Linked DNA regions of Homo sapiens. Each later gene encodes a partner of the first gene's protein in a complex. Each region holds a gene or a part of one and is shown in the gene's direction. Other genes may lie near its edges.

Region 1 (7,037 bases):
TGGGCTCAAGTGATCCTCCCATTTCAGCCTCCTGAGTAGCTACAACTACAGGCGTGTGCTACCATGCCTGGCTAATTTTTACAATTTTTTTTTAGAGATGGGGTCTCGCTATGTTACCCAGGCTGATCTCGAACTCCTGGGCTCAAGCAGTCCTGCCTTGGCCTCCCACCGTGCTAGGATTACAGGTGTGAGCCACGATGCCTGGCCTTGAAATTTTTTTTAATAGAATTAATCATTTAGGAATCAATTTATCAGTATTGTTTGTAGTGTTCAGTAAAATGATTTATATTATAGTTAGTTGTCCTATTGGAGTTTTGTTTAATGAAAAAGCTGAGGGTTGGGATTCAGAATATACTTCCTGTTTTTCTGTGATGTCTTTTAGAAGCCTTGTATTTTGGAAATAGTTGTTCACCGGTTATATCTGGCTGAAGGAGAGTAGATATCACTTAGGGACCAGACTGAAAGGTGTAGGTGAGACATTAACATCTGAGGGCAGTATCTGTGTAACATGTAATGAGCAGTGATTAGAACACTGAAAATAATTCAGACGAAAAATGAAAAATAAAAATCAAGGAGGAAGAAGTGCTACAAGTTGGGTTTAGCAGGATCTAAGGCTTAGAAAGAAGAAAAGGGCTGGGCATGGTGTCTCACACCTATAATCCCAGCACTTTGGGAGGCTGAGGTGGGCAGATCACCCAAGGTTAGGAGTTCCAGACCAGCCTGGCCAACGTGGTGAAACCCCCTCTCTACTAAAAGTACAAAAAAATTAACCGGGCATGGTGGCGTGAGCCTGTGATCCCAGCTCCTCGGGAGGCTGTTGCAGGAGAATCGCTTGAACCCAGGAGGCGAAGGTTGCAGTGAGCTGAGATCACGCCACGCCACTGCACTCCAGCCTGGGCGACTGAGTGAAACTCTGTCTCAAAAAAAAAAAAAAAAAAAAAAAAAAGAAGAAAAGGCACAGGAGGGGAAATCAGAGGGACAGAATTGGTGGGGAGCAGTTAAATAGTTTTATCAGATGTGACCTTCTGCTATCAGTGATATGAATTGTTTTTCTCAAGAGCTTGATATGTAGGTCTGAGTTTTAAAATACAGGAGGCCAGGGGTTGCTCACGCATGTAATCCCAGCATTTTGGGAAGTCAAGACAGGAGGATTGCTTGAGACTGCAAACATACAGAAAAGTAGAGAGCGGCTGGCGCTATACTCCAGCCTGGGCAACAGAGCAGGACTCTGTCTCAGAAAAACAAAACAACAGGCCGGGCACAGTGTGTGAAGACAGGTTTTAATAACACTAGGGTAGGCTGGGCACGGTGGCTTACGCCTGTAATCCCAGCACTTTGGGAGGCTGATGTGGATGGATCACCAGAGGTCAGGAGTTTGAGACCAGCTTGATCAACATGGTGAAACCCTATCTCTACTAAAAATAAAAAAATTAGCTGGGTTTGGTGGTGCGTGCCTGTAATCCCACCTGCTTGGGAGCCTCAGGCAGGAGAATCTCTTGAACCAGGAGGTGGAGGTTGCAGTGAGCCGAGATCGTGCCACTGCACTTCAGTTTGGGCAACAGAGTGAGACTTTGTCTCAAAACAAAATAACAAAAAAAACTACCGTGAGTAGTAAAATGAACCCCTCATATACTCATCACCTAGCTTCAACAGTTACAAGCTTAGGCCAGCTTTGTTTAATTTGTACACTGGTCACTTCTACTCTTCCCATTATTTTGAAGCAGATCTTAGACATACCACTTTATCCATAAATATTTCAGTATGTATTTCTGTGTAGGGACTTAAAAAGATAATACCATGATTACACCTAAAATTAAAATAATAAAATATCTAGTCACTGTTCTGTTTTACCCATTCTTTTAAACTTTGTTTTTCAGTTTCAGTCAGGCTTCCAAGAAAACTGATAACATTTTGATTGGTTGGTTTCTCTTATATCTTTTTCATTTCACAGTACATTGTGATTTAATGATTTATCTCTTAAATCTTTTTCAGTTCATAGGTTCCTCCTGTCTCTTTCTTTTTCCTTGCACTTCATTTGTTGCAGAACCTTTGTCCTGTGGTTTCGCACAGTCTGGAGGAATTGGGGAAAGTGGCTGTCTAAACTGGTTCCCTCCTTCCCATTACTGCTGCAATCAAGATGTTAGGGGGCCTACAAGCAATGGAAGCACCCAGAAAATTATTGGCTCTAAGTATGAGCATAGTTCTGAAATCATACTTCAGGTTTAGATTGTGCTAGTCATGGGAAGGAAATTTTTTTTTTTTTTTTTGAGACAGAGTCTTGCTCTGTTGTCCAGGCTGGAGTGCAGTCGCACAATGTCGGCTCACTGCAAGCTCCGCCTCCCGGGTTCAAGCGATACTTCTGCCTCAGCCTCCCGAGTAGCTGGGACTACAGACGCGCGCCATCACACCCAGCTAATTTTTGTATTTTTAGTAGAGATGGGGTTTCACCACATTGGCCAGACTGGTCTCGAACTCCTGACCTCAGGTGATCCATCCACATCGGCCTCCCAAAGTGCTGGGATTACAGGCGTGAGCCACCGTGCCGGCCTGCCTTAGTGTTATTAAAACCTGTCTTGACACAAAAACCTCTAAACAAATGTTTACAGTAGCCTTACTTGTAATCACTGCAAACAGCTCGATGTACTTCAGCTAGAGAATGGATAAACACACTGTAGTACAATGGAATACTACCCAGTAATAAAAAGGCAGAAACTATTGATGTGCACAACAGTGTGGAAATTGGAATATTTAAGGGTTTAAATGGGTTAAAGAGTGCCAGCTTTTGGCAGTTTTGTGTGGCCAATAGGAAGTCCTAGTCTCTTCTTGCTCAGTCACTAGCAGACAGTATCCCTTTTTTCTTTGTCTTCACATCTGAATGTATTGAACTATGAGTCCAAACTGGGAAGGGATTAGGCTGGAACAGGATTTGTTCATTTTGGTCATAATTGAAGTTGGAAGAGATTATTAGCATAGACGTTTCTTTGCCTCAAGTCTTCATTGTTTTTGACCTCTGGTTACTCATTTTGGTATGTTCTCTCATTTTTTATTTTCATAGTTGCCAACCCCCGCCTTTTTTTTTTGAGATGGAGTTTCACTGTGTCGTCCGGGCTGGAGTGCAGTGGCGTGATCTTGGCTCACTGCAACCTCTGCCTCCCAGACTCAAGCGATTCTCTTGTTGCCCAGGCCAGAGTGCAGTGCTGTGATCTCGGCTCACTGCAACCTCCACCTCCCAGGTTCAAGCGATTCTCATGCCTCAGCCTTCCAAGTAGCTGGGATTACAGGCGTGCCACCACCATGTCTGGCTAATTTTTGTATTTTTAGTGAAGACAGGGTTTCACCATGTTGGCCAGGCCGGCTTTGAACTCCTGATCTCAAGTGATTCAACTGTCTTGACTTCCCAAAGTGCTGGGATTACAGGCGTGAGCCACCGCGCTCAGCCAGTTGCCAAGCAGTTTTATGCATTGATCATTTGTTGTCAGAAATGATCTATTTGCATATTTTTAGTCAGTTTATATTTAAGAAATTATAGGAATACTTACACACCAGGCTGTAACTTAGTGTTGGTTTTGAAAATACGGAGTTAGAGACAACATTGTTATTCCCAGAGATAAAAAATTTGAAGTGGAATTTTACAAACCTTGGCTGGCATGGATAGGGGAGAGAAAAATTTGGAAAATTACTTTTAATTACTTCTACAGATTACCTATTTATTTATTTACTTACTTATTTAGAGGCAAGGCCTGGCTCTAACACCCAGGCTAGAGTGCAGTGGTGTGATCTCAGCTCACTGCAACCTCCGCCTCCTGGGCTCAAGCCATCCTCTGACCTCAGCCTCCTGAGTATCTGGGACTACAGGTGTGCACCTGTAGTGACTAATTTTTGTATTTTTGTCTAATTTTTGTAGAGACAGGGTTTCATCATGTTGCTTAGGCTGGCCTTGAACTTGTGAACTCAAGTGATCTGCCTGCCTGGGCATCCCAAAGTGCCCAGCCTCATTACCTTTTAATTAATTAATTAATTAATTAATTAATTTGAGACGGAGTCTTGCTCTGTCGCCTAGGTTGGAGTGCAGTGGTGCGATCTCGGCTCACTGCATCCTCTGCCTCTTGGGTTCAAGCAATTCTCTGACTCAGCCTCCTGAGTAGCTGGGATTCCAGGCACCCACCACCACACCTGGCTAATTTTTATATTTTTAGTAGAGATGGGGTTTCACCATCTTGGCCAGGCTGATCCTGAACTCCTGACCTCGTGATCCACCCGCCTCGGCCTCCCAAAGTGCTGGGATTACAGGCGTGAGCCACCATGCCCGGCCCAGATTACCTTTTATGAAATATTTTAACATGCAGAAGAGAATAGGACAAAATATAATGAACACTAACCCACTGCTCAGCTTTATCAGTTCTTCATTTTCTGCCGTATTTTTTCCCACCTTTTTATTTATTTTGAAAACGAAACCTCAGACACAAAGTTACCTTATTTATGAATGTCATGGTAATAATTTGTTTGCTCATAAATATTTGGGTATGTTATATTTGGTATTTTAGCACATAGTTTATTAAGAAATTTCTGAGTTTTTAGTTCTCTGAATTGCATAATAAGCTGCTGAGTTTTATGGAATCTGACGGCTTAATTTTATGGATCACATGGTGTATGTGTAAATGTGCTGCAGTTTGCAGTGTGTTAACAAAGCCCATTAAGCTGTTTGGACTTTATATCTATAGTTTCCAGCAGACAGAAAACAATGCCTGATTTGCATATAAACATTTAATTGTACTGCCTATAAGAAGTTCAGTAATATACTCACCTTAGGATTAATTAACTACAAACAGCTGCCTAGCCCCAGGAGATTTTGGGCTGGGTAATTTTGTTACTAAATTTTAATAAGAACCTAGTCATGATTTACATAGATTTCATACCAACACTATTTCAGTACTTTATGAACCTTTGTAATTGGAAAACTCTGATGCTAATCAGCAGGTACATAAAATCAATAGTTAAAATTCAGTAGCTGAAATTAGTTCCAGAATAAGTGTTATCCAAATGAGAAACTAGTTGCTGAAACTTCAGGATGGAAAAGTTGTTTAGATGGAAAATAAGAGAGATGCCTGATAAGGGGGAAAAAGCAAGTTGCACAATATGTGTAGTGTGCAGTTTTTATAAAACAGCACCCCTTTCCTGTTTTTTAGTTGTGTATGAGGTAGAGAAAAGTATAAAATGATGCTCTAAATTGGAAAATTTGGTAGGGGTGGGCTGGGGTTGGAAATGGGAGGGGTGAAGGGCCAGGTAAAATAGTTTCCTAGGGTGTTTGTTAATGATGCAGAATCCTGGGCTTCACAGCCTGAGTTGGAGTTTCAGAGTTAGTGTATCCAAGACCTAAGGTTCTACCTTTGTAACAGGTGCACCAGGTCATTTCTTTGTAGGTGGTCCTTATACTAGACTAATGCTGTAGAGGAGATTGCAGACTATTTCTCCTGATTCATCCATTTGTTTCTTACCTAAATCCTCATGGAAGTAGCATTTGTGGTCCTTTTACAAAAACCTATTTAGGTAAAAGTGATAAATGCACCTGTGGTTTAAAAAAAAAGCCTGAAGCTGGGCGTGGTGGTGGGCATCTATAATCCCAACTATTTGGGAGGCTGAGGCAGGAGAATGGCTTGAACCTGGGAGGCGGAGGTTGCAGTGAGCCGAGATCCAGCCACTGCACTCCAGCCTGGGCAACAAGAGCAAAACTCCGCCTCAAAAAAAGAAAAGAAAAGAAGATGCCCGAAGGGGGTGGGAGTGGGGCAAATGTAGATTAAATTTTTCAAAATATGAAACTACAAACAGAAACAAAAGTAGAGATCATAGTAAAAAGAACCACCCTGCTCATGTGAGGATATTTCTGGCTGCCTGGGCTGCTATAATGGTTTGGGGACAAAGTAACATCTGTGCATGTAGTGGTGCTGTGTAACACAACACACTATAATAATTTTGAGATCCGATCACAACTGGGGCTGCTAAACTCAGCATTAAAACTATTCTATCATTTTGAGTTTCTTTCTTTCTGTTTGTTTCTGAGACAGTCTCTCTCTCATCCAGGCTGGAGTGCAGTGGCAGCAATCGTGGCTTACTGCAGCCTTGACCTCCTGGGCTCAAACAGTCCTCCCACCTGAGCCCCCTAAGTGGCAGGGGACTATAGGTTTGCCACCATACCTGGCTAATTTTAGTATTTTTTGTAGAGATAGGGTTTTGCCATGTCGCCCAGGCTGGTTTTGAACTCCTGGGCTCAAGTGATCCGCCCACCTCAGCCTTCCAAAGTGTTTGGATGACATGCGTGAGCTACCGCGTCTGCCTCCAGTTTGTGAGACGTGCTCCTGTTCCTTTCTTATGTGGAAATGTGACCCAGCCGTGCCTTAGACTAGATAAGGACATTTTGTTATCCTGCACATCTATCTTGAGGAACTATAGAGGGCTTTCTCCCTTAGCTGGGGGGGTGGGAGGTTTTGCAAATACAGGATGCTATTTGAATCTTTATCTTTTGATTCATGCAGCTAGCAATTGAGCTTTTTTATTTTTTATTTGATTTATTTATCTATTTATTTTTTGAGACGGAGTTTCGCTCTTGTCGCCCAGGCTGGAGTGCAATGGCGTGATCTCGACTTACTGCAACCTCCACCTTCCGGGTTCATGTGATTCTCCTGCCTCAGCCTCCCGAGTAGCTGGGATTACAGGCGCCTGCCACCATGCCCGGCTAATTTTTGTATTTTTAGTAGAGACGGGGTTTTAGCACATTGGCCAGGCTGGTCTTGAACTCCTGACCTCAGGTGATCTGCCCACCTCGGCCTCCCGAAGTGCTGGGATTGCAGGTGTGAGCCACTGCGCCCGGCCTAATTTTTATTCATTTATTTATTTATTTGAGATGAGTTTTGCTCTTTGCCCAGGCTAAAGTGCAGTGGCACGTGATCTCGGCTCACTGCAGCCTTGGCCTCCCGGGTTCAAGCAGTTCTGCCTCAGCCTCCTGAGTAGCTGGGACTAGAGGCGTGCGCCATTACACCTGG
Region 2 (7,037 bases), on another chromosome or scaffold:
GATCTCCGGCATAAGCTCAATCTTCGGGTAAGCATCATTAAGCTCAATATTCTTAATATTAATGTTAATTAGTCCAGATTTAGTATTATTGGTTATCTAAACTAATAACCTTGAATTTCTTTTCTAATGGTCTCTGAACTGTCTTTGCCAGAGTAATTATTATATCCCTTCTGTTCATGTCTCTTAATTTGATTGTTTTAGTCTTCTAGATGCTGTTTTAGGATAGGATCATTTTCTTGTTTCATATTTCAGTCAGTTTTATATGTTCTGTGCTGGATGGGCTAGTGATGAAGGGTGGGAGTCCCCATCTAAAGGAAGAGGAAACAAAAGGAATAGATGTTAACAGATGATATCTTAGAATATTTTGAAATGAAGATAAACTTGTCTGTCAAATTACATATAGTATGCTTTATTTTAAAAATTAGAATAAACTAATACCTTTTAAAAATATGCATGTACTAATTTCAGAATGGTTTAAACTGCCTACCAGAAAGTTTTGGGCTGCACATTGGCTACATTGGTTTAAGGTGCTGATAGATGGTAAATGAAACACACAGAAAAAATATGCTATGCTATCTACTCTAATATAGACAACTTTCTCGCCTGTGTGCACCTTATCAGTTGCTACACGATGTTTAAACTCCTGTTTTCCAGGAGGGGTGTGTATTTGTGTGTGTACACTTGTCTGTTTTCCAAGAGGTTACTCATCTCCCCAGTGACCCAAGAAAAATTTTAAGTAAAACCCCTGAAATCCTGATTGGAAATATCAACATCACCAGAGAAGCATTGAAAGGTTACCACTTTGGGGGACAAAATGGAGATTATAAGCCCCATTCTTCACCTAGGTGCAGTTTGAACAGGGCTTGACAGTGGCTGGACCATCACTAAGTGAGACTTTAATTCATCAAGCATAACTGAAAATGGAGGCAGTAGATTATATCTTGGTAGCCAGCATGTGTAGACTTGTCTTATTTGGAGCCCACTTGGAATTTTCATTTCAAGAGTAAGATACATTAATTTTTTTCTACCATCTGGTTAATACTTAATGCAAAATGGCAAAAGAACAGTTATGGCTTCCCAATTCATTGAACAATTTTTTTTCCGTTTTATTTGTTATGAGAAAATTAATTTTGAGTTAAGAAATTTTTAATCATTTAAAATTGTATGACAATTATCTTGGGAATATTTATCATGGAGTTTTTAATATGAGGTTTATATTTGTTACCATTTGAGGTTTTTCCTTTTCATTGTATGATTTTGGCTTACAGACTTGTATTTTTACTTCATACTCCAGCTAAAATGCTAGATCCAGGTAAGTATTGTTGAACTTCAAATGCTGTTAATGTTGAAGTACAAGTCATTCTGGGGAGTTGTCTCTATCTCTAGGTCTCTGGTGCTGCACCTCCTAGACCAGGAAGTAGCTTTGCTCATTTTGGGTTTGACGAACAACTTATGCACCAGATTCGGAAATCTGAATACACACAGCCCACTCCAATACAGTGCCAGGTAAGTAAAACATAATGAAAGAAAAATAAAGTAGGGTAGTCTTTCATGACTATATTAATTTAAAAACAAATCACAGCAGTAAAACAGTGTTTAGTGTAGAACCTTGTTGATAAGGATAGAGGTATTTATCACTCTTAAGAAGTCACTAAATGGCTGACAAATATTCTTTTGTATCTGATACGTATGTTGAAAATATGATATGAAGAAAATAATTTATTAGGCCTAAACCTAACCAAAAAGGTTCGTATATAGACAAATTTAGCACTGTCAATGACTAGAATTCCTTCGTTCGTCACTTGAAAATTCTCATTCATTACTGAAAGTTTTAGCTTCTTTTTCCCATTTATATATGGGATTTATTTATTCTTATGCAGAACATTCTCATTTTCTGTATATGAATGAGATAGTCTGTACCTTCTTAAGGGGGGAAAATTTTTAAAATTTTAGCAACCCTTCATTATAAATTGCAATTTTTCTGTTTTGTTTTTGTTTTTGTTTTTTTTGGGGACAGAGTCTCACTCTGTTGTCCAAGCTGGAGTGCAGTGGCGCGATCTTGGCTCACTGCAATCTCTGCCTCCCAGGTTCAAGCAATTCTCCTGCCTCGGCCTCCCAAGTAGGTGGGATTACAGGCGCACGCCAGCACACCTGGCTAATTTTTTGTATTTTAGTTGAGATAGGGTTTCACCGTGTTGCCCAGGCTGGTCTCGAGCTCCTGAGCTCAGGGAACCTGCCCACCTCGGCCTCCCAAAGTGCTGGGATTACAGGCGTGAGCCACTGCCCGGCCTTGATTTTTCATTTCTGTATTTTAAACAAAATGGAGTTGTTTCTGTTCTGTAAGTGGTGGCTGATATCCACGTAATGAGAATGATGTCATTTCCTATAAATCAAGAAGTTAATGAGAATGTTGGATATTGATATTTCTATTTCACAACCAGTATGCATAGCACCAGGTATGTTTTGTTCCATTGCAAATAAAAATGTTAGTAGTCATTTATCATTCCCCAGGATTTGCTTCAGTACATCTTTAGAATTGAAATTTTAGAGTGGTTATATTTTACTTTTTCTCCAGGGTGTGCCTGTGGCATTAAGTGGTAGAGACATGATTGGTATTGCCAAAACAGGTAGTGGGAAAACTGCAGCCTTCATTTGGCCCATGTTGATTCATATAATGGACCAGAAGGAGTTGGAACCAGGTGATGGACCAATTGCAGTGATTGTGTGTCCTACCAGGGAGCTTTGCCAGCAGGTATGTGCTTTCTATAGAATGCCTCCTTCCATATGTGGACTAGCAAGGGACCAGCCAGTCAAGTGAGGTAGAATGACCAGGAAACTTTTTTTTTTAATTGTGATAAGATACACACAAAATTGATTATCTTAACCATTTTTAATGTACAGTTCAGTGGCATTAAGTATATTCACAGTGTTGTGCTACCAGGAAACTTTTGGAAAGTATTATGTGTTAAATATTTTCTATATAACCAAATACATATTTTCCCCTAAAAACTACTGTTTTTATTTATTTTTATTTATTTGCTTTTTTTGAGACAGAGTCTCACTCTTTTGCCCAGGCTGGAGTGCAGTGGTGTGATCTCAGCTCACTGCAACCTCCACCTCCCAGTTTCAAGCAATTCTCCTGCCTCAGCCGAGAGGCTGGGATCACGGGCACACGCCACCACACCTGGCTAATTTTTTTATTTTTAGTAGAGACGGGGTTTCACCATGTTGGCCAGGCTGGTCTCAAACTCCTGACCTCAAGTGATCTGCTTGCCTTGGCCTCCCACAGTGCTGGGATTACAGGTGTGAGCCACTGTGCCCGGCCAGAACTACTTTTTTTAAGAGGAAAAGCCTATTGTGATATGGGGATTGTTTGTATTATAAGCTGACAGTTTTTCTGTAGGATGAGTTCATTTTATCTTGGTAGAAAAGCAGTGACAGGATCAGGAAGAGAAGGGGGTAAAATGAATAAAAGATTTTAGATAATCTGTTGAGATGCAATAATGGTATTCCATTCATTTATACCTTTATGAATAAAATCGTGGTTTTAAAGTATGTTCTAGGTTTCGATTTTTTATGACATCACATTCTGTTTTTCAGAACTTCGTTTGGGTTGTGACAGGTATTTGTTAGTGTCACAGTTTGTTAATATATTATTCACAACTTTGTAGATCCATGCAGAATGTAAGCGGTTTGGAAAAGCATATAATCTTCGATCAGTGGCCGTATATGGAGGAGGGAGTATGTGGGAGCAGGCCAAGGCCCTTCAGGAGGGGGCAGAGATTGTTGTGTGTACCCCAGTAAGTATGCCTTGTGTTTAAATGGCTTCTCAGCCTCCCTCGGTATGGAAAACATGATTAGTTTTGCAGAGAATTTCCCCTAAAGTGTGGTAAAAGCAGGGTTGAAAATATACTGATGAACGGCAGGCTGTGGTTTTAATTTTGATTGGTGGCTAAATTAGCAGTTCAGTGAGAGTCTCTGTGACATATAGGCTAGTAGCTACAAATTCCCCTCTATGTCAAATAGTTTTTCTTATACTCTCCCACAAAATGATTGCCAAGTTCATCAAGAATCAGAAAGATACATATGGTCAGAATAGCCTAGAAGAGTGTAGTTTAAACATTGAAACCTGTCATTATGCTTTAAATCAGGTCACTTTAGAATGCCTCAAAAACTGCTTCTGGCCACTTTCCCACAGAATTTAAATCACAGTGTAAATGAAGATGCCGATTGAGTTTTCAAAATTTCTGTTCCTTTGAGCTAAGTAGTGCATAAGGTATGTGGCTGTTGGACCAGTATCTATTACAGTCTGAGACTAGAGAATTAGCACTTTTGCCAGGAGTGCAACTGCTTAGAAAGTCCCTGTGAATGCCTTTAATTATACTTACTGTTCATTTTGTTGATCTTATAGGGTCGACTGATAGATCATGTGAAAAAGAAAGCTACCAATCTTCAAAGAGTCTCTTACCTTGTGTTTGATGAAGCAGATCGAATGTTTGACATGGGATTTGGTATGCCTTGAATACCAGTTTCTTCTGTCCCCATCCTCATGATACTAGTTTTTTTTCCATGTCTTTCTAGACTGTTTTTTCAGCATGAGAGAAGCTAAAAATACTCCTGGATGGGGTTAGACTATAGAAATATAGCTAAGATGAACATTTTTAGGAGTTTTCTCTGGAAAAGTATGTTAGGTTTTATTGGGTTGAGGAAATTTCAAAGTGCCTTTGTATATAAGGGGAATATTTTCTCTGTCTTCATTTTTATCCATATGCCTTTGATCATAGAGGTTAAGGTCTGTGTTCTTGGGTAGATGAATGTCAGATCATTCGAGGCCCTTTGCTTTCCTATCCTCGTAGCTGTCTTTACTGATTGGAACACTGCTAGACCTAGCCCAGTTGGATGGAGGGAAAATTTTTCACTTTTATGCTGAATGATATGTTTAGGAGCTTCTTTTTTCTTGAGACAGAGTTTTGCTTTTGTTGCCCAGGCTGCAGTGCAGCGGTGCGATCTCACTGCAACTTCCTCCTTCCAGTTTCAAGCGATTCTTCTGCCTCAGCCTCCTGAGTAGTTGGGGTGATAGGCACCTACCCCACAGCCTGGCTATTTTTTTTTTTTTTTTTTTTTGGTATTTTTAGTAGAGATAGCTGTGTTGACCAGGCTGCGAACTCCTGACCTCAAGTGATCCGCCTGCTTCGGCCTCCGAAAGTGCTAGGATTACAGGCATGAGCCACTGTGCCTGGCCTGGGGTTTCTAATTTTCTTAATTCTTACAACTTCTTATGAAGACTTTTACTAATATGGCTTTTTCCAGGCTTCCCAAACTGTATTTCAGGTTATAATAATTTTATTGTTCTGTTTCTTGCAGAGTACCAAGTTCGATCCATAGCAAGTCATGTTCGTCCTGACAGGCAGAGTATGTATGAAGCACCTTTGTTAAACCAAATTTGTACTAAAAAGGGCACTTATTTATTTTATAAGCACTCAGAGTTATGGAAGTAAAAATGATCTTGTGTCTGTTGGTGAGAACCATAATAAGGGAGGTAATGAGTTTATCTGAGCTGGACAGGATCTTAGCACTAGATATAACTTGTTCCTTTTTATAGATGATAAAACCAAGGATCAGAAATTAAATAAACTGCCCTAAATTATACAGTTTTATCAGTGGGTAGAAGCAGTGTACAGTACAGATCTGCTGATTTGAAATCAAGAGTCTTTTTCTGAACCATACTGACAACTTGTCTTAACTAAAAATGTAATAAAAATAGAATAAGAGCAAATCTTTCCCTAGTGAATCAGTTTCTAAACTAAATTTAAAGTTCAGGTGAGCTTATGTAAAAAAACTGAATAATCCTGAATGCCAAAGAAGCTTAATGGGTATGCATAAAGATATCATATTGTTTCTCTAACAGAATTTATCTTACCTTTTAGCTCTCTTATTTAGTGCAACTTTTCGGAAGAAGATTGAAAAGTTGGCCAGAGACATCCTGATCGACCCTATTCGAGTGGTGCAGGGAGATATTGGAGAGGTAACCCTAAGCAGGGCTGGATGGGACCTTAATGGGTTTATTTCTCATATTATGGAACACAGAATTAATTTCTCACTATTGAGATAAAAAAAAAAGATGTTATGTTTATAGATGCAACATGCTTGAGATTGGGTATTTTGCAAGTTGTGGGGATAGACGTAACAAGACTGGCAAAATGTTGGGAATCATTGAAGCTAGGTGATGGGTATGAGTTGATTTTGTTCATTTTGTGTTTTTTTTGTTTTATTGAATGTCTCAAAACTTACAATTGTTTTAAAAAGGCTTCAAAGAGACAAAAAGATGTGCCTGGAAGCATCAGCGTATTAGGTTGGAACTGACGTTTTAATTATTGTGGTAGGGGCCTACGCAGGAGGGAAAGGGTGACCTGGAAGGCCTGGAAAAAATCAGGTTTCATTTCTTACCTGTACATATGCGCTATGTGAAAAATTACTCTGAATTGGGACTTGGAATTCAGTTATGGCTGCTTAGAGAATCCTTCAGTTGCTTGCCATGGTTATTGTTAAGGAAAGCTCTACAAAGTAGTGGGGCATACAAATTAGGTATGTACACCAGGTGGAGAGCAAGGTGATTGGAAAGGAGAGGTGAGTTTTGAGCTGCACTTGACTTGCTGAAGGCCCAAGGAGAACTGGGATTGTTCAAGGTCTTCTCGATGCAGGTAGAAATATAATGCCTAGTCCTTGTTCAGGTGCCCTGTGGCTCCAATGTCACAATCATCTGTTTCATTTCTTCCTTCTCAGGCAAATGAAGATGTGACACAGATTGTGGAGATTCTCCATTCTGGACCTAGTAAATGGAACTGGCTTACCCGGCGTCTGGTAGAATTTACCTCTTCAGGGAGTGTCCTCCTCTTTGTTACTAAAAAAGCCAATGCTGAAGAGCTAGCGAATAACCTTAAACAGGAGGGTCATAATCTTGGGCTGCTCCATGGGGATATGGATCAGAGTGAGAGAAACAAGGTCATTTCAGACTTTAAGAAAAAGGACATCCCAGT
Region 3 (7,037 bases), on another chromosome or scaffold:
TCAACATTGCATTCACCTAAGTTATAGATTTCTAATTGGTAGAATGCTAAGTAATTCACCTTCATTATCAATTATAAATGTTTTTTAATTTTTCTTAAATGACAGGTTTGCCTCCAGATATTACAGTGGATGAATTTATACAACTTATGTCCAAGTTTGGCATTATTATGAGAGATCCTCAGACAGAAGAATTTAAGGTCAAACTTTACAAAGATAATCAAGGAAATCTTAAAGGAGACGGTCTTTGCTGTTATTTGAAAGTAAGTTGTATGATCAAATAAGTTTCTTGTATCTTCGTTTTTAACTCAGGAACCAGGGCTATAATTTCTATAGATGATAACCAACACCAAGAACTGTTCAAAACAGGATATGAAGAAAACTGAAATTTCAGTTAGTACCTGTGTGTATCACATTGGTAAGATTATTCACTTGTTTTAAGAAAATATGTTATCAGGTAAAAGTATTATATAAGTATGCGACTGGAGTGCTTCTTCTGTCTTGAAAAATTCTCACTAGAAAGATTTTTTTATTGATGTGTACAGTCAATTCAGACTACATTTTAAAAATTCAAGAAGAAAAAAAGCCAGTAACATTTTAGTTGTCCATTGGAATGAATTACACCAGGGTTCAGCAAACTCGGGCTCTGTTTTGGTAAATACAGCTTTATGGAACACAGCCACACTAATTCATTTATGCATTTGTCTATGGTTGCCTTTGTGTTTCACTGATAGGGTTGAGTGGTTGCAGCACAGACCTTGTGGCCTACAAAGCCTAAAATATTTACGAACTGGCCCTTTAACAAAAGGATTTTTCTGACCCTTGAATTAGACCATGAAGGAGACGATAGCTTATTCTTACTGCTTTAAAATATTTTTTTGAATGTGAGAAAAGAGAGAGTGGTATTAAGAGAAATTTGCAGAACTTCATGTAGTCATAGTACCATAAATTACACAAAGAAACCTCAATGCCAGAGGCAGCCATCATTTCTGGAACACCTGCCACCTTAGGAGCATGTGTTATACATTATCACAGGGTACAGAACAAATGATGACATGTACATAAGTCAAACCTGGAAATAATTACAGAGTAAAGTCAAAATGGTAAAGCAAAAGTACAAACACCACAGGTGTGTTGTGAGTATACAGTATTCCAGTGAGATCAGAAGAGAGTAGGATTAAGCTGACAGCTTTTTGGGAAATAGGTTTTTGACCTGAATCTTAAACGTGATGGTTATGGGACATGAGCATGACCATTTTAGGATGGTAGTTTTGTAATGTTCAAATGTAAGGAGATTTGAGGGTTTTATAAGTTCTTTAAGGATTATTAAAAAATCTGCGAACAGATTCTTAGGGAGTTCTGTTAGATTTTTTAAATTTTTAAAGGAAAAAAATTGAGTTTTGAGACCCATAGAAGTACAAGATTGTCAAAACAGTAAATTGAGTTCCAGGAAAATATAGTGAATTATTCCAGGACCCATATATGTGAGCAGCTGAGTTCAGTTATCCATTTTTCTTTTCTACAGGTCCTCTGATCTTTGACTCTGTTTGTATAGGGCTGATAACTGTCCTTTCTCTAAGACCTGGAATCCATACATGTATTTAATATAAAGTACAAGTCATCAGATAATTGTCTTCTACTTCTCAGTGTATTACAGACTCACAATTTAATGGATGAACCAAAAAATTAAAGGCTGTCTATGGTGTTCCCAATTCCTTGAGTCATCTAGTCTTTTAAGTAAGAGTATTATAGAATTTTAAAAGAAATACACCTTAGAAATCATGCAGATTTGCTCCCTTCATTCTGCAAATGAGAAATTGTGGCCTCAAGAGACAAAATTACCCAATAATAATATTTATTGAACACCTACCATATGTTAGTCCTTATCCTTTCCATGCATTATTTCATTTAATTTTGTCAAGAACCTTGTGATGAAGGTATTAACTATTTCCATTCTACATACGACGATATTGGGGCTCAGGAAGCTTGAATAATTTACCCAAGTTCACACAGCCGGTTAGGGACAGCTGTGTCTCAGATGCGGGTTTCCTGGTTCAGATTCTAGAGTTCTTTATCTCAAAGAGAGAACGAGATCTCGTATATTCATAATATATAAATATAAGAATTTAAATTATTTTATGTATAATCATCGTTCATCTAAAAAACTCCTGAAGTTTTATTTCGTTGTATAACTGACTATATTTTGTCTTACATTTATAAAGAGAGAATCTGTGGAACTTGCATTAAAACTTTTGGATGAAGATGAAATTAGAGGCTACAAATTACATGTTGAGGTGGCAAAGTTTCAACTGAAGGGAGAATATGATGCCTCAAAGAAGAAGAAGAAGTGCAAAGACTATAAGAAGAAGCTGTCTATGCAACAAAAGTTTGTAATTTTTTTCCCTTTTGAAAGGTTCCATATATTCTAGAGTATATTTTTGGTAATAGCCATCTAGTTTTATTCTGTCAAGTGTGCCTACACATTATTTTAAAATAATTTCATTAGCTCATCAGGTACCTTTAGCAATCTATACAATAGGTTTAGATTTAGCAGTGGTGGGGATTTTAATTTTCCAGAGTGTCTATTTGTAATATAATAAGGGCTTAAATGAGCTAAGAGAAGCCATCTGTTTGGAAAACGTTGAACATCAAATTAAATAAGATAGTTTAGGCTTATGTACCAGAACCGTTTACTTCTGTGTGGATTGAAATCAGTGGTACCAGGAGCTAAATTTTTCTATACAGGTTTGTTATAGGAATTAGAAATGACAGGATTTTATAATTGTATTTACTGTAGTTGTATGTAGTATATACATAATGTCATCAAGTTTCTATTATTATTCTGTTTGTTTAATATACTTTGAAATATACTAGTTTTAAGAAATTAGTCAAAATGATAAATACTTTTATCAGAGTAAATTCTAATGACACTTCTAACACCATGCTTAAACTAATTAAATATCATAAAAGCATTTAGTTGTGATGTCTCATTGTTTTTACAAGTGTAGGTAAAATTGATAACCACATATTTTTTAAACAATATCAGTAAAATTTATGATTGTAACAGAGTTGAGTAGTTTTATGTATTTGAGTGCAGTTTGTTTTTTATAATGATAAAGTACCTAAAAACCAATACAATTTAAATATATTTTTTAGCCTCAAGGTATATCTTTCTGAACTCATAAATACTAAGAATTAGAGATTTTTCAAGGGTCTCATTGGAATGTTTGTATAATCAGACAACAGTTGCCCTGAAAAACATTTCATCTGGGGATTTCAGATACTGGGATCATTTTGCCTCTGCCTTTTATTTTATTTTATTTTATTTATTTGAGGCAAGAGTCTCACTCTGTCACACAGGCTGGAGTGCAGGGGTGCAATGTTGGCTCACTGCAACCTGTACCTCCGGGGTTCAAGCTATACTCATGCCTCAGCCTCCCCAGTAGCTGGGATTACAGACGTGCACCACCACGCCTGGCTGATTTTTGTATTTTTAGTAGAGATGGGGTTTCACCATGTTGGCCAGGCTGGTCTTGAACTCCTGGCCTCAAGTGATCCGCCCGCCTCGGCCTCCCAAAGTGCTGGGATTATAGGTATGAGCCACCGCACACGGCCCCCTGCCCATTATTTTTATTTCAGAAAGTTTTCTGACTGGAACTATGACTGAAATACAGTTTGTTGTTGTAAAATCCAGTAATTATCTTTATTAAATACTCAGTAAAGTATTGTATGAACAACTCATTCTTTTCTCTCTCCAACAAGTCTGAAGCAAAATTTACAGTTTGTTGTTACTGCTTCATTGCCTCAGGCAGTTGGATTGGAGACCTGAGAGGCGAGCCGGACCATCCCGGATGCGCCATGAGCGAGTTGTCATCATCAAGAATATGTTTCATCCTATGGATTTTGAGGTAGGAAGTGGTGTGCTTACTGATAGAAATGCTGATAGGCTTTTTTTCTCTCAAGGGAGCCTGGAGCTTGCCTCGCCTCATCTTTGTCTTGTCACCTCCTACGTGTTTGTGCAGCGAGTAGTAAAGGAAGATGGAGCCAAGAAGCTACTTAAGTCTTTTGATTTCCCTTCCCTTTGTTTAGCCCAGTATTGTTTTAAAGTGTATCACAGATAAGACTGTTTAATAACCATACTGCGCCCCAAGCAGCAGCTACTTGGTATGGGAAACCATTGAAAAATATCATCATCAAAAGATTTATGGGAACTGCTTGTGGATTTTCAGTGCAAGCCAACAAGTATGGCCTGATTTTGGTGGGGAGTACCAGCTTCACAATTGTAAATGCAAACTTCAGTTTGGTACTAAAAGTTATAATATTTAATGTCCGTGGAAAATTCCAAGAACAGCAAGTAAAAGTGAATAAGTACATCTGTTATGTATCAACTTTTTTAAGTGATTTTAAAAAAAGTTAATGGAACTGTCCTTCCTCCCCTCAAAAAAGTGAATAAAGGAGAAGCAAAGAACAAGGAGTTCTGAGGAATATTGTCATCAAAGTACCTTGTGTTACATTCTGCCTGTATTCTTATCTCTGTCTACTGGTGTAGACTGACTTTATTGTTGTGGAGAAACAACTCTTTATTCTCTCCCTGGTTCTGAAATTAGTGATAGCAAGTTATACAGAAAGCAGGTTATACAGATAGCAAGTTATACAGAGAAAAATGTTCATAACGTAAAATTCCGTTTTTACCAATAATCTAGTTGTAAATTAGTGCCCATTCCTGACCCTTTTGTGCATTTAAACAGTCAAAATGGTAATATAATTGTAGCTCCCTTAGAGAGGGCCCCAAAATGGACAGTTCAGCTCTATCTCAATGAATAGTGTTGTGATAAGGTTTACTGTGTACCTATGGAGTTTGGGCATCTTTTGAGGTCATTGGAAATATACGTCTGGTTTATTTATGAGATTGATTGATATCTCTTCTGACTAGAAATCTGGAAGAATTTTGAAATATAACAGTTTACAGTTTTACAGTTGCAGTGATAATGAAGTATGGTTTATAAACACGTGCACACCAGATGCATTTTGAAATACTGTTTTTGCCAGCAATAACTTTAAAATGAATGCATAGAATTACAAAAATATTAGCTGGGCATGGTGGCGCATACCTGTAATCCCAGCTACTCAGGAGGCTGATTCAGGAGAATCACCTGAACCCGGTAGGCAGAGGTTATGGTAAGATCGCGCCACTGCACTCCAGCCTGGGCAACGGAGCGAGACTCCATCTCAAAACAAAACAAAATAAAACAAAACAAAGAACCAGATCATAGTCATTAAAGCAGCATATAAAATAAATGCACAGATTGATCACAATATTTAGTCTGCTAAATACAACTCCGGGATTTCCTATTATTTATTACATTTTATCCCCCTGCTAAATAAGTGATTTATTAGGTGACATATTTATTTCTGTGACTCGAGGTCTTTGATTCACACATTTCATACTCCTGCCACCCAAGTGTGAATGTAAATGCAAACCTAATTCAAACTATCTGGAACCTCTGCAAGTAGAAGTCTGTTGTGTAATTTTAATCTATTCTTGTTTCTACCTCCTGCCTTGCTCATTGAAATACCTTATTTGAGTCTAAGGATCACCCCAGGCAGACTTAGCTCTTCCCAGCTTAACAAATATTCTTTCCCCAAAACCACATTTATTCTACCTTGACCCCTATACATTCCCTCCAGTGAATATTTTTAAAGATAGAAGTTTCATGCTTGCAAATTCCTGATTTTTTTTTTAATCTTCTTGGTTTAGTATAAACATTACTTTGGAGTTACAGAGCCTTTATACTACCCTATTTTGTTTCCTTCATAGCATTTATTATTATCTGAAGTAATTTTGACTCGTCTACTAGAATGTGAGCTCCATGACACCCAGTATTTTGTCTACCTTGTTTGCTGCTGTATTCTCAGTACATAGAATTTGCCTGGCACACAGTTGGCCCTTAATATTTATGTGATGAAGAATTGAAAGAATTGCTAAATGAAACCCTTGTTATTTACAAGCCAGAGTCTTTTCATTCAGCCAGTGGATAAAACATTTTCTCTTCAGCATCTTTGCAAATGAAAGCAAATTTTCTTCTTAGATGCTTATTCCACAAAGGATGGTGGGACATTGTCTTGGCCGTGGCGGAATTAGTTCACAAAGAAATGCTTGGTGATGCTATCCTTGTTTGCCCACCTTCCTGGCCTCACATGGTCCAACTAGCTTGCTGAGAGCGTGTCAACAAGAAGAGTGACAAATAATCTTGCTTTTGTTCACTGTCTCTGAGCACCTGAACCTCAGTGTAGACCTGTGCTGTCAGATATGGTAGACTGTAGCCATGTGTGGTTAAATGTAAGTTAATTAAAATGAAATAAAATTCAGTTCATCGCTTCTACTAGGCACATGTAGCTAGTAGCTACCATATTGGATAATGCAGATATACAACATTTTCATTATCACAGAACCTTCTATTGGACAACACTGGTATAGACATTATATAACTTTTGATAGAAGTGTCCAACAGGAAAACCTGCTTTTATTGCATGTTTTGGGGGAGTGTTTGATTTGACTCAAGACTCCATATGAACCTAAAGAACACACAGCAGCATTGAGCTTTTTAGTGGAAAACAAAAACTGAATTGTCAGGTTATCCTGAGATATCTGAAAGGAGTCAGATTTTGGGTGGAGGGGTATATTTTGATTCCAAACAGTTAGAAGCAACATACCTAAGAATACTGTCTGATCTGAAGGCTAACATTTTTAATGTAACTTCAGAGGGTCTTCAGTATTTAATTCAAATCCTTACTTTAAAATGCATTGCCTGGCAAATTTGAATACCAGGACATGAAGAGTCAAAACTCAAATGCATTAGCCGGGCATGATAGCACGCACCTGTAATCCCAGCTACTTGGAAGGCTGAGGCACGAGGATCACTTGAATCCGGGAGGCAGAGGCTGCAGTGAGCCAAGATCGCGCCACTGCACTCCAGCCTGGGCAACAGAGTAAGACTCTGTCTTCAAAAAAAAAAAAGAAAGAAAGCAAAGCACTGAGA
Region 4 (3,219 bases), on another chromosome or scaffold:
TGTAATCCCAGCTACTCAGGAGTCTGAGGCAGGAGAATTACTTGAACCCGGGAGGCGGAGGTTGCAGTGAGCCAAGATTACGCCACTGCACTCCAGCCTGGGTGACAGAGCAAGACATGGTCTCAGAAAAAAAAAAAAAAAATTACTGCATTGTATTGTTTTATTCTTAAATTTTTTGTTACATGTCTTTTCAAATATACTTAAAAGTAGGGACTATGATAGTGATACGTTTTTATCATAGTATATGTGCTAATATTTTGGTGTTCCTTCATCTGGCTTCAAGTTACCAATATTTTGTCATTCTTAATTTTCATATTCAGCTTATTTCTCCCCCCTCCTTTTTCTTTGCTGGATTATTTTAAGGCTTATCAGGTTTATTTCACCTGAGATCCTTAAGTATATTTCTATTATTTCTCAATTAACATTTTGGGTCAGATAACTTCTCTGTGGGGGCCTTTGCTGTGCGTTGTAGGATATTGAGATGTATCCCCAGCCTCCACCCACCGGATGCAAGAGCACTACTCCCTGCTGAGACACCCAAAAGCATCTCCAAAGATTGCTCAGTGTTCCCTGGGGACACCCCCCCTCCTCCAGTTGACAACCACTGCTCTAACCAGATAACCTTAAAAAATTGTTTTGTTTTTTTAACAAAACCACAATAGCATGATTAGATTAGCGAAATTCCTTAGTGCCTATTCCATGTTCAAATTTTTCTATCTCAAGAATTTTTTTTTTTTTTTTTGAGACAGAGTCTCGCTGTTGCCCAGGCTGGAGTGCAGTGTGCCCGCCACCACACCTGGTTAATTTTTTTTGTATTTTTAATAGAGACAGGGTTTCACCGTGTTAGCCAGGATGGTCTCGATCTCCTGACTTTGTGAGCCGCCCGTCTTGGCCTCCCAAAGTACTGGGATTACAGGCGTGAGCCACCGCGCCCGGCCAATAATTTTTTTTTTTTTGAGACGGAGCCTCACTCTGTCACCCAGGCTGGAGTGCAGTGGCGCAATCTCGGCTCACTGCATCCTTCACCTCCCGAGTTAAAGAAGAGTAGCTGGGACAGGCACCCGCCATCATGTCTGGCTAATTTTTGTATTTTTGGTAGAGATGGGGTTTCGCTATGTTGGCCATGCTGGTCTTGAACTCCTGACCTCAGGTGATCCATCTGCCTCAGCCTCCCAAAGTACTGGGATTACAGGCGTGAGCCACTGTGCCCAGCCGAGGATATTTTTTATAGTTTGTTTCAGTAAGGATCCATATCAGGTCCCTGCCTTGAATTTGGTTACAAAGTTTGTGTAATTTATCCTTTGTACCTCACTCCCTCTTTTTTTTTTTTGCAAGCTCTTTTATTTGTAGAAGAAATAAGTTCATCTGCTATATAGAATTTTCAGTGTTCGTGTAGGCTCATTGTATCCTTCCCTCCCTCCATTTTCCTGTAAATTGGTTTAAGCAAGGTTAGAAGCTCGAATAGATCAAGGTTCAAGTTTTTAAATTTTATTCAACCTGGGTTTGAATCCTAATTTCTGAGCTTCCCTTAGTTCACTTATTGTTGGGAGAACATGGCTGTTGGGGTGGTTCTGGGAGCGCCCACCATGGTGGCTCGTGTGGAGTAGACACTCAGCACGAGGGACCCCTCCCCCGCGGTGAGCTCGTCTAGGCCTCCCGCCTGCGCTCTATGGCTCTGCTGAGTTTCTGGCATGTCTCTATTCTTTCTCCCTCTCCATGCCTATGGTGTGTTTATGCTCTTGTTTTTTGATCCTGGAGAATATTTGGGTGAACTCCACCAAACCTGCTTACTAAGGGTCCCTTTCTGACACCTGTGGCGAAGCCCCCTCCTCCCTGTCCCTTCCTGCCTTCAGTGCTGGGGTTGGGTGGACGCTGACTGGCTGTTGGGCGTGAGCCTTGTTCACAAACCTGCCTCTCCTTTCCCCACAGATCTTTGTGGAGTTCACCTCTGTGTTTGACTGCCAGAAAGCCATGCAGGGCCTGACGGGCCGCAAGTTCGCCAACAGAGTGGTTGTCACAAAATACTGTGACCCCGACTCTTATCACCGCCGGGACTTCTGGTAGAGGCGGCTGGGGGAGGGTGGGGGCAGGGCTGGCTGGGGGCTTCTCCCCACTCCCGCCCCCCCCTTATCCCCCTCTGAAGACGATGGGCAGAGGAGTGACAGCCGCAGACACACGACAGCCGGCAGCAACTGGAATGGCAGCAATTAAGGGTGGGGGGCGGGGGTTGGGGGGTTGGGGGGTTAGGGCAGGGAGGGGACTGGGGAAGTGCGCACACAGCCCACACAGACAACACGCACCCACACAGACACAGAGGGAAGGGGTTGGGATGGGGACAGGGTGCACAGCAGGGCGGGGTAGGACCCCAGCCCCTCCCAAAACAGCCTCTCCTTCTCCCATAGACCCCTTTCTTCTCCCCTTCCCCACGGTAGGAACATAGCGTGTTTATATTTTATGGCCAAACTATTTTGAATTTTGTTGTCCGGCCCTCAGTGCCCTGCCCTCTCCCTTACCAGGACCACAGCTCTGTTCCTTCGGCCTCTGGTCCTCTCTGGTCCCCTCCTGGGTTTCTTACGTAGTTGATTTTTCCTCTTTAGTCTCCCCCGACCTGCGCCCAGCCCCGTGGCCCCTGCCCCTCTCCTACTCTCTGTGGCAGTTTCATATTTGCTAAGACGAATTTGCTCATTAAACATTTTGTTGTATTTTACTTTATGGAGCGGCTGTGTGTCCAGTATGTCCGACCCTCTTCCTCGGTTCTGGGCTCGGGTGGGGGTTCCCTTGGCAAACTGCGGGCCCCTGGCTGGGACGCCCCTGCTGCCGGCGCCGGCAGCCTCGAGGCCTTCCCTGCTTGCGCGGTGCCCTTCTCGGGGTCGGCACAGGCACAGCCCCGGGGGACGTGAGGTTCCCGAGTGCTCTCCCACCCCGCCGACAGGAGGGATGGTGGCCGAGCGGGCCGGGGCGGGCGTGGCGTGGGTGTGCCAGGAGCTCCGCGGTTGCCGCCAAGCGAGCTGGAGCTGACTCTCGGCGTTCCGTGAGCACCGCGCGGATCCCCCGCTGCAGCGGGCGGAAGTGACGTAGAGGCGCCTAGCAACGGGGCCCAGCGCGCCGGAAGTGATGCCTTCCAGGTTGGCTTGGCTGCGGAAGCGACTCCTGCCAGGGCGGGGTGCGGCACGGGAGGGCGGGGAGCGCGGCAATTTCCGCTTCCGGTCCGTCGCCTCC

The links.
Region 2: the proteins of SF3B1 (region 1) and DDX42 are in contact, whole or in part, in a cryo-EM structure (PDB 7EVN), measured with the Homo sapiens proteins. Residues at the interface, in NP_036565.2 of Homo sapiens: Pro509, Pro510, Lys513, Arg517, Thr520, Asp557, Arg558, Tyr561, Lys562, Asp565, Leu566, Arg568, Pro569, Ile583, Ala607, Ile610, Ser611, Arg614, Glu622, Arg625, Asn626, Arg630, Pro646, Phe647, Ala650, Val651, Lys653, Ser654, Lys655, Lys656; in NP_031398.2 of Homo sapiens: Asn68, Glu71, Glu72, Tyr75, Phe76, Glu77, Asp78, Glu79, Glu80, Glu81, Asp114, Pro115, Leu116, Glu117, Phe119, Met120, Val123, Ala127, Asp130, Met131, Arg133, Leu134, Gly146, Ile147, Arg148, Ile151, Glu152, Glu153, Glu154, Asp155.
Region 3: SF3B1 (region 1) and HTATSF1 share a complex: the UniProt entries of both Homo sapiens proteins name them as parts of the 17S U2 SnRNP complex.
Region 4: the proteins of SF3B1 (region 1) and U2AF2 are in contact, whole or in part, in a crystal structure (PDB 7SN6), measured with the Homo sapiens proteins. Residues at the interface, in NP_036565.2 of Homo sapiens: Ser336, Arg337, Trp338, Asp339, Thr341, Pro342, Ala343, Met346; in NP_009210.1 of Homo sapiens: Met383, Glu388, Glu394, Glu397, Ile398, Asp401, Val402, Glu405, Gln447 (codon at 1,975), Gly448 (codon at 1,978), Leu449 (codon at 1,981), Thr450 (codon at 1,984), Gly451 (codon at 1,987), Arg452 (codon at 1,990), Lys453 (codon at 1,993), Phe454 (codon at 1,996), Ala455 (codon at 1,999), Val459 (codon at 2,011).

The regions. Positions count from the first base shown.
Region 1 is NC_000002.12:197,425,014-197,432,050, reverse strand, and holds part of SF3B1 (splicing factor 3B subunit 1), read left to right. Parts: intron 1-7,037. UniProt on the Homo sapiens protein: Component of the 17S U2 SnRNP complex of the spliceosome, a large ribonucleoprotein complex that removes introns from transcribed pre-mRNAs.
Region 2 is NC_000017.11:63,805,149-63,812,185, forward strand, and holds part of DDX42 (ATP-dependent RNA helicase DDX42), read left to right. Parts: coding exon 1-27; intron 28-1,386; coding exon 1,387-1,506; intron 1,507-2,575; coding exon 2,576-2,752; intron 2,753-3,671; coding exon 3,672-3,800; intron 3,801-4,411; coding exon 4,412-4,511; intron 4,512-5,364; coding exon 5,365-5,412; intron 5,413-5,927; coding exon 5,928-6,025; intron 6,026-6,783; coding exon 6,784-7,037. UniProt on the Homo sapiens protein: ATP-dependent RNA helicase that binds to partially double-stranded RNAs (dsRNAs) in order to unwind RNA secondary structures. Unwinding is promoted in the presence of single-strand binding proteins.
Region 3 is NC_000023.11:136,500,559-136,507,595, forward strand, and holds part of HTATSF1 (17S U2 SnRNP complex component HTATSF1), read left to right. Parts: intron 1-105; coding exon 106-260; intron 261-2,219; coding exon 2,220-2,383; intron 2,384-3,805; coding exon 3,806-3,905; intron 3,906-7,037. UniProt on the Homo sapiens protein: Component of the 17S U2 SnRNP complex of the spliceosome, a large ribonucleoprotein complex that removes introns from transcribed pre-mRNAs.
Region 4 is NC_000019.10:55,672,005-55,675,223, forward strand, and holds the end of U2AF2 (splicing factor U2AF 65 kDa subunit), read left to right. Parts: intron 1-1,929; coding exon 1,930-2,064; 3' UTR 2,065-2,712; downstream 2,713-3,219. UniProt on the Homo sapiens protein: Plays a role in pre-mRNA splicing and 3'-end processing. By recruiting PRPF19 and the PRP19C/Prp19 complex/NTC/Nineteen complex to the RNA polymerase II C-terminal domain (CTD), and thereby pre-mRNA, may couple transcription to splicing.